Regions from separate parts of the Homo sapiens genome. Here region 1 is reported to be linked to region 2. The links are microRNA targets in miRTarBase. Many come from high-throughput screens and were not tested one by one. Region 2 holds a microRNA gene; the other region holds the end of a gene's coding sequence.

Region 1 (3,000 bases), not on the chromosome of region 2:
AATGCTTAGCCACATTTGAAAATATGCATCTTGATTCAGCCACTTAGTTTGATGTCAGAGCTCTGTATTTTTAGATTTTCCATTTTTGTATTCTATTATGCGAGTTTCAAAGAGACCAGTCTGAGTTTTTGAATACTTCTTAGATTGTCTACATGCTTATTAAACAGACTTTTCTTCAACTTAATAATAAGAGCCACACCTTTTACAACTCTGGAAGGCACTATTTATTTTATACTTTGTGTGAACGGGGCTCCTGGAGTCTCGAATACCTGATATTGCCTGATCATAAACAAAAGTGCAGCTTATATGTGAGAAGTGGTCTGCTTTTTTTCTTACTCATGTTATTCTTCAACAACTCTTTCTACAGTGTTTCATTTAGCAGCCTTCAAATTAAAGCTTTGCAAAATGCAGTTGAAAAGGAAGTCCAAGCAGAAGACAATATCTACATTGAGAATAGTCTTTATGCCACGGACTAAGACCCAGTGGTGCTCTTTGAGAGTTTACGCCCATGAGTGCAGAAGACTGAACAGACATCAGCACATCAGACGTCTTTTAGACCCCAAGACAATTTTTCTGTTTCAGTTTCATCTGGCATTCCAACATGTCAGTGATACTGGGTAGAGTAACTCTCTCACTCCAAACTGTGTATAGTCAACCTCATCATTAATGTAGTCCTAATTTTTTATGCTAAAACTGGCTCAATCCTTCTGATCATTGCAGTTTTCTCTCAAATATGAACACTTTATAATTGTATGTTCTTTTTAGACCCCATAAATCCTGTATACATCAAAGAGAATAGTCCCTGGAAACATAGCAAATGAACTTCTATCTTGGCCATCACAGCTGTCCAGAAGAGGGGAATCTGTCTTAAAAACCAGCAAATCCAACGTGAGACTTCATTTGGAAGCATTGTATGATTATCTCTTGTTTCTATGTTATACTTCCAAATGTTGCATTTCCTATGTTTTCCAAAGGTTTCAAATCGTGGGTTTTTATTTCCTCCGTGGGGAAACAAAGTGAGTCTAACTCACAGGTTTAGCTGTTTTCTCATAACTCTGGAAATGTGATGCATTAAGTACTGGATCTCTGAATTGGGGTAGCTGTTTTACCAGTTAAAGAGCCTACAATAGTATGGAACACATAGACACCAGGGGAAGAAAATCATTTGCCAGGTGATTTAACATATTTATGCAATTTTTTTTTTTTTTTTTGAGATGGAGCTTTGCTCTTGTTGCCCAGGCTGGAGTGCGATGGTGAAATCTCGGCTCACTGTAACCTCCACCTTCCGGGTTCAAGCAATTCTCCCGCCTCAGCCTCACGAGTAGCTGGGATTACAGGTGTCCGCCACTATGCTCAGCTAATTTTTTGTATTTTTTTAGTAGAGACAGGGTTTCATCATGTTGGCCAGAATGATCTCGAACTCCTGACCTCAGAGGATCCAGCCTCCTTGGCCTTCCAAAGTGCTGGGATTACAGGCATGAGCCACCGTGCCTGGTCCATTTATGCAATTTTTATTACACGTGTGTCATGGTGCTAAGCATTTAAACAACCATCAGGCTTTCTGAACAAATTTTTAGAACCAAGAAGATCAGCAATAAAAGAAAAAAAAAAGGCGGGAGTAGGGAAAAGTCTGCCTTTTCTGCCTTATAAGTTACATTGCAGATATAAGTGTTTGAAACTCACTAGTTTTGACCCAAATTCTAAATCGCCTCCAAACCACTTTCATGTTTAAAATTGTTTAGGAGGCTAGCGCCGTGGCTCATGCCTGTAATCCCAGCACTTTGTGAAGCCAAGGTGGGCAGGTAGCTTGAGCCCAGAAGTTTGAGACCAGCCTGGGCAACATGGCAATACCCCATCTCTATTAAGAAAAAAATTTAAGGAAAAAAAAAAAAGATAAAATTGTTTTGGAAAGGCAAAGTGTCTTTCTCATATCTAATCAATTCCTGTATTTTTTTTTTTTTTTTTTTTACAATTCAATTAGGCTTATTGTAAGGATATCTTTAGTCAGTATAAAAATATATAAAAAACAATTATACTAAACCAGTATAATTGTTTAGAAGTATATATTTGCCGGCCGGGCATGGTGGCTCATGCCTGTAATCCCAGGGCTTTGGAAGGCTGAGGTGAGTGGATCACTAGAGGTCGGGAGTTTGAGACCAGCCTGACCAACATGGAGAAACACTGTTCTCTACTAAGTATAGATTTGCAAGGGCTAGATTTGTCAGAAAAGAAACATTTCTACATGAACAGTTAAGGCTGGGTATTAATTTCAATTTCAGTTTGAGTAAACTCTGAAATAATTCATGGTTGAGGTTCAGAGCTACCCATACCATAGTTGTCTGGGGCAACAGGATGCTTGCTTTCAGAGGAAACTTTTTGTTTTTGTTTTTGTTTTTTTGAGATGGAGTTTTGCTCTTGTCACCCAGGCTGAAATGCAATGGCACAATCTTGGCTCACTGCAACCTCCACCTCCCAGGTTCAAGTGATTCTCCTGCCTCAGCCTCCTGAGTAGCTGGGATTACAGATGCCCGCCACAACGCCCAGCTTATTTTTAGTAGAGACAGGGTTTCACCATATTGGCCAGGCTGGCCTCCAACTCCTGACCTCAGGTGAGCCACCCGCTTTGGCCTCCCCAAAGTGTTGGGATTACAGGCATAAGCCACCGCGCCCAGCCAGAGGCAACATTTTTTAACGCAGTTATCATTCTAGGAAATTTATAGGTCCTTTGAAGGAAAATTCTGTGGGCAAATAAGATTGTGATACATGGTATTTCAGTTTTCCCAAATGTGGCCAGCCCGATCTGGTCAAAAATTTTATTTTTTAAAAGCTATAGTGTCTTTTTTTCTTAAATTTGAGGCAACATGCACAAAATTGGAGATTTGAAATTAAAGCCAAGATTTGTAGTTTCTCTGGAAAGACCTGGCAAGATTGGACTGGATTGCTATGTGACCAGGGTCCCACTAGATGGGGCTGCATCCTCTAATCCCCAAATCCTTATGT
Region 2 (4,572 bases):
CTGTGGCATCCACTGGACCCTAGAGTCTCATTGGGCAGGGCCTCAGAATCCACAAAGACTCCCCAGTGCTGTTCCTCTTCCAACGAGGCTGGACCCCTTCCAGCCATCTGGGAACTCAAGCAGGAAGGAAGGTTCCTTAGGACAGGTTCCTGGCATGGCAGGTTCCCCTGGAAGTGGTCGGAGGGCCCTCCCACCTCTTGATGCCAGCAGAAGTCAGGCCTTCCCTGCTCCCTGAGGACACATCAGGGCTTCTGCGGACTTGGCCTTCTGGTTCACACTGGCACGTCCAGACCCAGGTACTCTGGGTTCTCTGCCGTAGGTGTCCCTTTGAAGGTGCTGGGTGGAGCCCCCCGCTCTGGTGGGTCCTGGTCCCAGTAATAGAGGTTGTCGAAGGCTGGGCTGAAGGCAGGAGGAGGGTGGGGCTGAGGGGCAGCTCCTCCCTGGGGTGTCAAGTACTCGGGGTTCTCCACGGCACCCCCAAAGGCAAAAACGTCTTTGACGACCCCATTCTTCCCTGGGGAGAGAGTCTTGGGCCTTTCCAGAGTGGCACCAGCAGGTCGGGCAGCAGGCAGAGGGCCCTCTCGGGGCGAAGGGGGCTGGGGCCGAACATCTGGCTGGTTCACATATTCTGAAAGGTCAAGAGAAGGTGACCCATTAGGGGAAGGAACCCCGGTGTCTCTGCCACTCCCTCTGCCCCCACAGTGGACCCTGGGCTGAAGGTCCCACCTCCCCTGCCCATCAGTCTCTCTGCTTAGACTGGACTCCATACCAGGCTGGGGGCTGCAGGTCAGGGGGGCAACGTAGCCATCAGTCTCAGAGGGCAGGGGTACTGTGGGGTCCTCACTGTACCGCTGTAGAGGGCTGGGGTCATGTGTGGGGAGGCTTTGCAGCCCCTTGGCTGCCCCCATTCCCAGGTCACCATCAAATACATCGGAGCCAGCCCCTTCGGAGGGTGCCAGTGGAGACCTGGGGGCCTCCTCTTCAGAGGGCTCCAGCCCTAGTGTCAGGTCCCCACCGCCACTCTGGGGACAAGAAAGAAAGTCATGATGGGGGTCACTCACGGATCTGGGATGGGGACTCCATGGAAGGTGACAGGGTCACAGGAGAAAAACAGAGGTCACCTTTGGGGTATGACACAGTCACCGTGGAGAGAATGGGGTCACAGGGGTTGGAAGGCAGTAAGAATTTTTTGTAGGGATAATGGGGTTTCCTTGAGAGGTGACAGTTGAGGGAACATCAGAGAAAGGGACCCTAGTCCACCGGGGTTGGGGGAGGTAAGCAGACAGCCACACAGTGTGACCGAGGGCACTGACCCTGGTAGATGAGCTGCGGTGCCTGTGGTGGACCATGCCCCCAGCGCCCGGGGCAGGGTCTGGACAGAAGAAGCCCTGCTGGGGTACCAGATACTCCTCAGCATCCACCAGGTCCCCCATGTCATCGTCCTCCAGCAGTGAGCGGTAGAAGGTGCTGTCCAAGGGACTGGCTGGGCCCAAGTCCTCATTCTGTGGAGGAAGGAGAGGCAGGATGGTGGCCCCTCCCCAGCCCAGCATGCAGCCTTCCGTGAGGGGCCTGGCATACTGGACTCATCTCTCCTTCCCACCCTCTGCAGGAGGGTGCTCTTAGCCACAGGCAGGGATGGGGCACAGAGGCCCAGTACCTGGATGACCACAAAGCGCTGGGGGTCCCTGGCCATGCGGGAGAATTCAGACACCAACTCCCGGAATCTTGGCCGACATTCAGAGTCAATCATCCAACCTGGGGCAGGAGGGAGGTCAGCATGCTAGTCCCAGGCCCTGTGTGCTTGCTGCCTCTCCCCTCCCACTCCCCCTCCAGTCTGGTCTAGACAGTCCCAAGGGACAGCCCAAAGCCCTCAGGTGGTAGAGAAGTAGCACCAGACTCTGGGGTCTTCAGCCAGAACCTTTGGCATCTCTTCTAGTTTCCCTTTTAATTTTTTTTTTCTTTTTGTTTGCTTTTTTATTTTTTTGAGATGAGGTTTCGCTCTGTCACCCAGGCTGGATTTCAGTGGTGCAATCATAGCTTACTGCAACCTTAAACTAGGCTCAAGTGATCTTCCTGCCTCAGCCTCTCCTGAGTAGCTGGGACTACTGGCACACACCACCACACCCAGATAATTTTTTTATTTTTTGTAGAGATAGGATCTCACTATGTTGCCCAGGCTGGTCTTGAACTCCTGGCTTCAAGGGATCCTCCCACCTCAGCCTCCAAAAGTACTGGGATTACAGGCATGAGCCACTGTGCCCAGCTTAATTTTGTACAAGAGTGTTCCTCAAGAGTGGCTTTGGACTTTGACTGTAAAAGGGATACAAGAAGGTTTTGAGGCTCCTAACATACTAGGGCTCCTGGGTCTACATACATCCTGGTCCCCTTTCATGCCCCTTGTGGGCTCCTCCACCCAGGACCTCCCACCCTCCTCCAGGCAGCCAGCACAGCTCAGCCACGCACATTTGACCATGATCATGTAGACATCAATGGTGCAGATGGGGGGCTGGGGCAGCCGCTCCCCCTTTTCCAGCAGGTCAGGGATCTCCCGGGCTGGGATCCCATCGTAAGGTTTGGCCCCAAAAGTCATCAGCTCCCACACAGTCACACCTAAGGCAGAGACAGGGTCAGGAGTGGGAGGGCCAGAGGGAGCTTTAGTGTACTGAGCCAGAGGTTCTGCTCAGGAGTCTAGCATCATGGCAGGTAGCAGGGGGAGATGTGATGCCAGGAGACAGACCCTACCCGGTCTTTCCCTAATCCTGGGAAGTGCACAGACCCTGCAAGGTGGGGCACAGGCAGCCCCTTCCCTCCCTTCACATGCTGAGGTGGCCCCGTAATTCTCCCCATCCCAGCTCTCATCCTCCCTCCAGCCATGGCTCCTCACCCACCCCTCCCAACACCCCCCATCACACACCATAACTCCACACATCACTCTGGTGGGTGAACCGCCGGCGGAGAATGGACTCCAGCGCCATCCACTTGATGGGCACCTGGGAGGGCAGAAGAGGAAGTCCTCCAACTGTGTGTTGTGGGGAGGTGGCCACTCAGAGTTCTCCCATGGGCTAGACACCACTCCACCCAGCCTCCTCTGCTCCTTGGTCCTTCACCTAACCTTGCCCCCATCTGCATGGTACTCTGTCTCGTCAATGTCCAGCAGCCGAGCCAGCCCGAAGTCTGTAATTTTGACATGGTTGGGACTCTTGACCAGCACGTTCCGAGCGGCCAAGTCCCTGTGTACGAGCCGCACATCCTCCAGGTAGCTCATCCCCTGGAATGGGAAGCACCCATGTAGACCTTCTGGGAGGGCCTGGGCCTGGCCACATGCCCAGCAAGAGTCCCCATCCTAGCCCCTTGTGGACATAGGGGTTTGCTCCGGAGAGACCTGCAAAGAGCCCAGGTGCATACCTTGGCAATCTGCATACACCAGTTCAGCAGGTCCTGGGAGCCCAGGCGTCCGCGGTTTTCCCGGACATGGTCTAAGAGGCAGCCATAGGGCATAAGCTGTGTCACCAGCTGCACCGTGGATGTCAGGCAGATGCCCAGAAGGCGGGAGACATATGGGGAGCCCACACCAGCCATCACGTATGCTTCCTGGGGACAAGGGTACGCTGAGAGGGTATGGGAGACCACACACCCCCAAACACCACACAGCCTCCCAACCATCACAAACCACAGCCATGGCCCACAGCCTGTGAAGGCTCAAAGTACCAGCCTGGACAACATGGTGAAACCCTGTCTCTACTAAAAATACAAAGATTAGGCCGGGCACGGTGGCTCACACCTGTAATCCCAGCACTTTGGGAGGCCGAGGCGGGCGGATCATGAGGTCAGGAGTTTGACACCAACCTGGCCAACATGGTGAAATCCCATCTCTACTAAAAATACAAAAATTAGCCGGGCGTGGTGGCTCGCGCCTGTAATCCCAGCTACTCAGGAGACTGAGGGAGAAGAATCGCTTTAACCTGGGAGGCTGAGCTGAGACCGCACCATTTCACTCTAGCCTGGGTGACAGAGCGAGACTCTGTCTCAAAAAAAAAAAAAAAATTAGCGGGCGCTTGTAATCCCAGCTACTCAGGAGCCTGAGGCATGAAAATCGCTTGAGTCCAGGAGGTGGAGGTTGCAGTGAGCCGAGATAACGCCACTGCACTCCAGCCTGGGTGACAGAGCAAGACTCCGTCTCCAAAAAAATAGTCTAGGTTTGCGGGAGTCATATCTCCCCAAACCCCAATGAAGAGAGACCAGAGCCCAGACCTGCAGCCATGGGGTCCTTCCTGTCCTCCTAGCAGGAGAGGGTGGAGGGGCTTACGTCTAAGATTTCTTTGTTGGCTTTGGGGGATGTGTTTTCCCTCAACACTTTGATGGCCACTGGAATTTTCACATTCTCCCCATCAGGGATCCAGATGCCCTGGGCAGAAAGAGGAGGATATGAGTGAGAAGAGCGTGGGCTGGATCCTACCTGCCTTCCAGGAGATCATTACTTGTCCTCCAAACATCCTTCACCACCCTAGGGCTTGGCCCCGCTCCCTTCTCCGCTGTAACTGCCCTCCCCCAAACACTGCCTCCAGCTCTTGC

Evidence for each region. The annotated mature microRNA hsa-miR-4728-5p reads UGGGAGGGGAGAGGCAGCAAGCA and lies in region 2 at 1,799-1,821, opposite strand. An mRNA with a match to its seed (bases 2 to 7 or 8) in the 3' UTR can be bound and repressed. Matches are read on the target gene's strand: a 7mer-m8 pairs with bases 2 to 8, a 7mer-A1 pairs with bases 2 to 7 and ends in A, and an 8mer does both.
Region 1: the mRNA of HAVCR1 is a reported target of hsa-miR-4728-5p. The part of its 3' UTR that is shown has no 7-base or 8-base seed match.

The regions. Positions count from the first base shown.
Region 1 is chr5:157,027,209-157,030,208 of GRCh38, reverse strand. It overlaps HAVCR1 (hepatitis A virus cellular receptor 1), which reads left to right. Exons shown (of 9, transcript NM_001173393.3): 9 at 368-796. The coding sequence ends at 476. Among named protein-coding and RNA genes, the nearest start is that of HAVCR1, 30 kb to the left of the region's middle.
Region 2 is chr17:39,723,745-39,728,316 of GRCh38, reverse strand. MIR4728 (microRNA 4728) reads right to left here and starts at 1,822; the gene lies at 1,756-1,822. It overlaps ERBB2 (erb-b2 receptor tyrosine kinase 2), which reads right to left. Exons shown (of 27, transcript NM_004448.4): 19 at 4,307-4,405; 20 at 3,406-3,591; 21 at 3,113-3,268; 22 at 2,915-2,990; 23 at 2,464-2,610; 24 at 1,658-1,755; 25 at 1,314-1,502; 26 at 770-1,022; 27 at 1-628. The coding sequence ends at 273. RefSeq lists an enhancer at 1,042-2,014.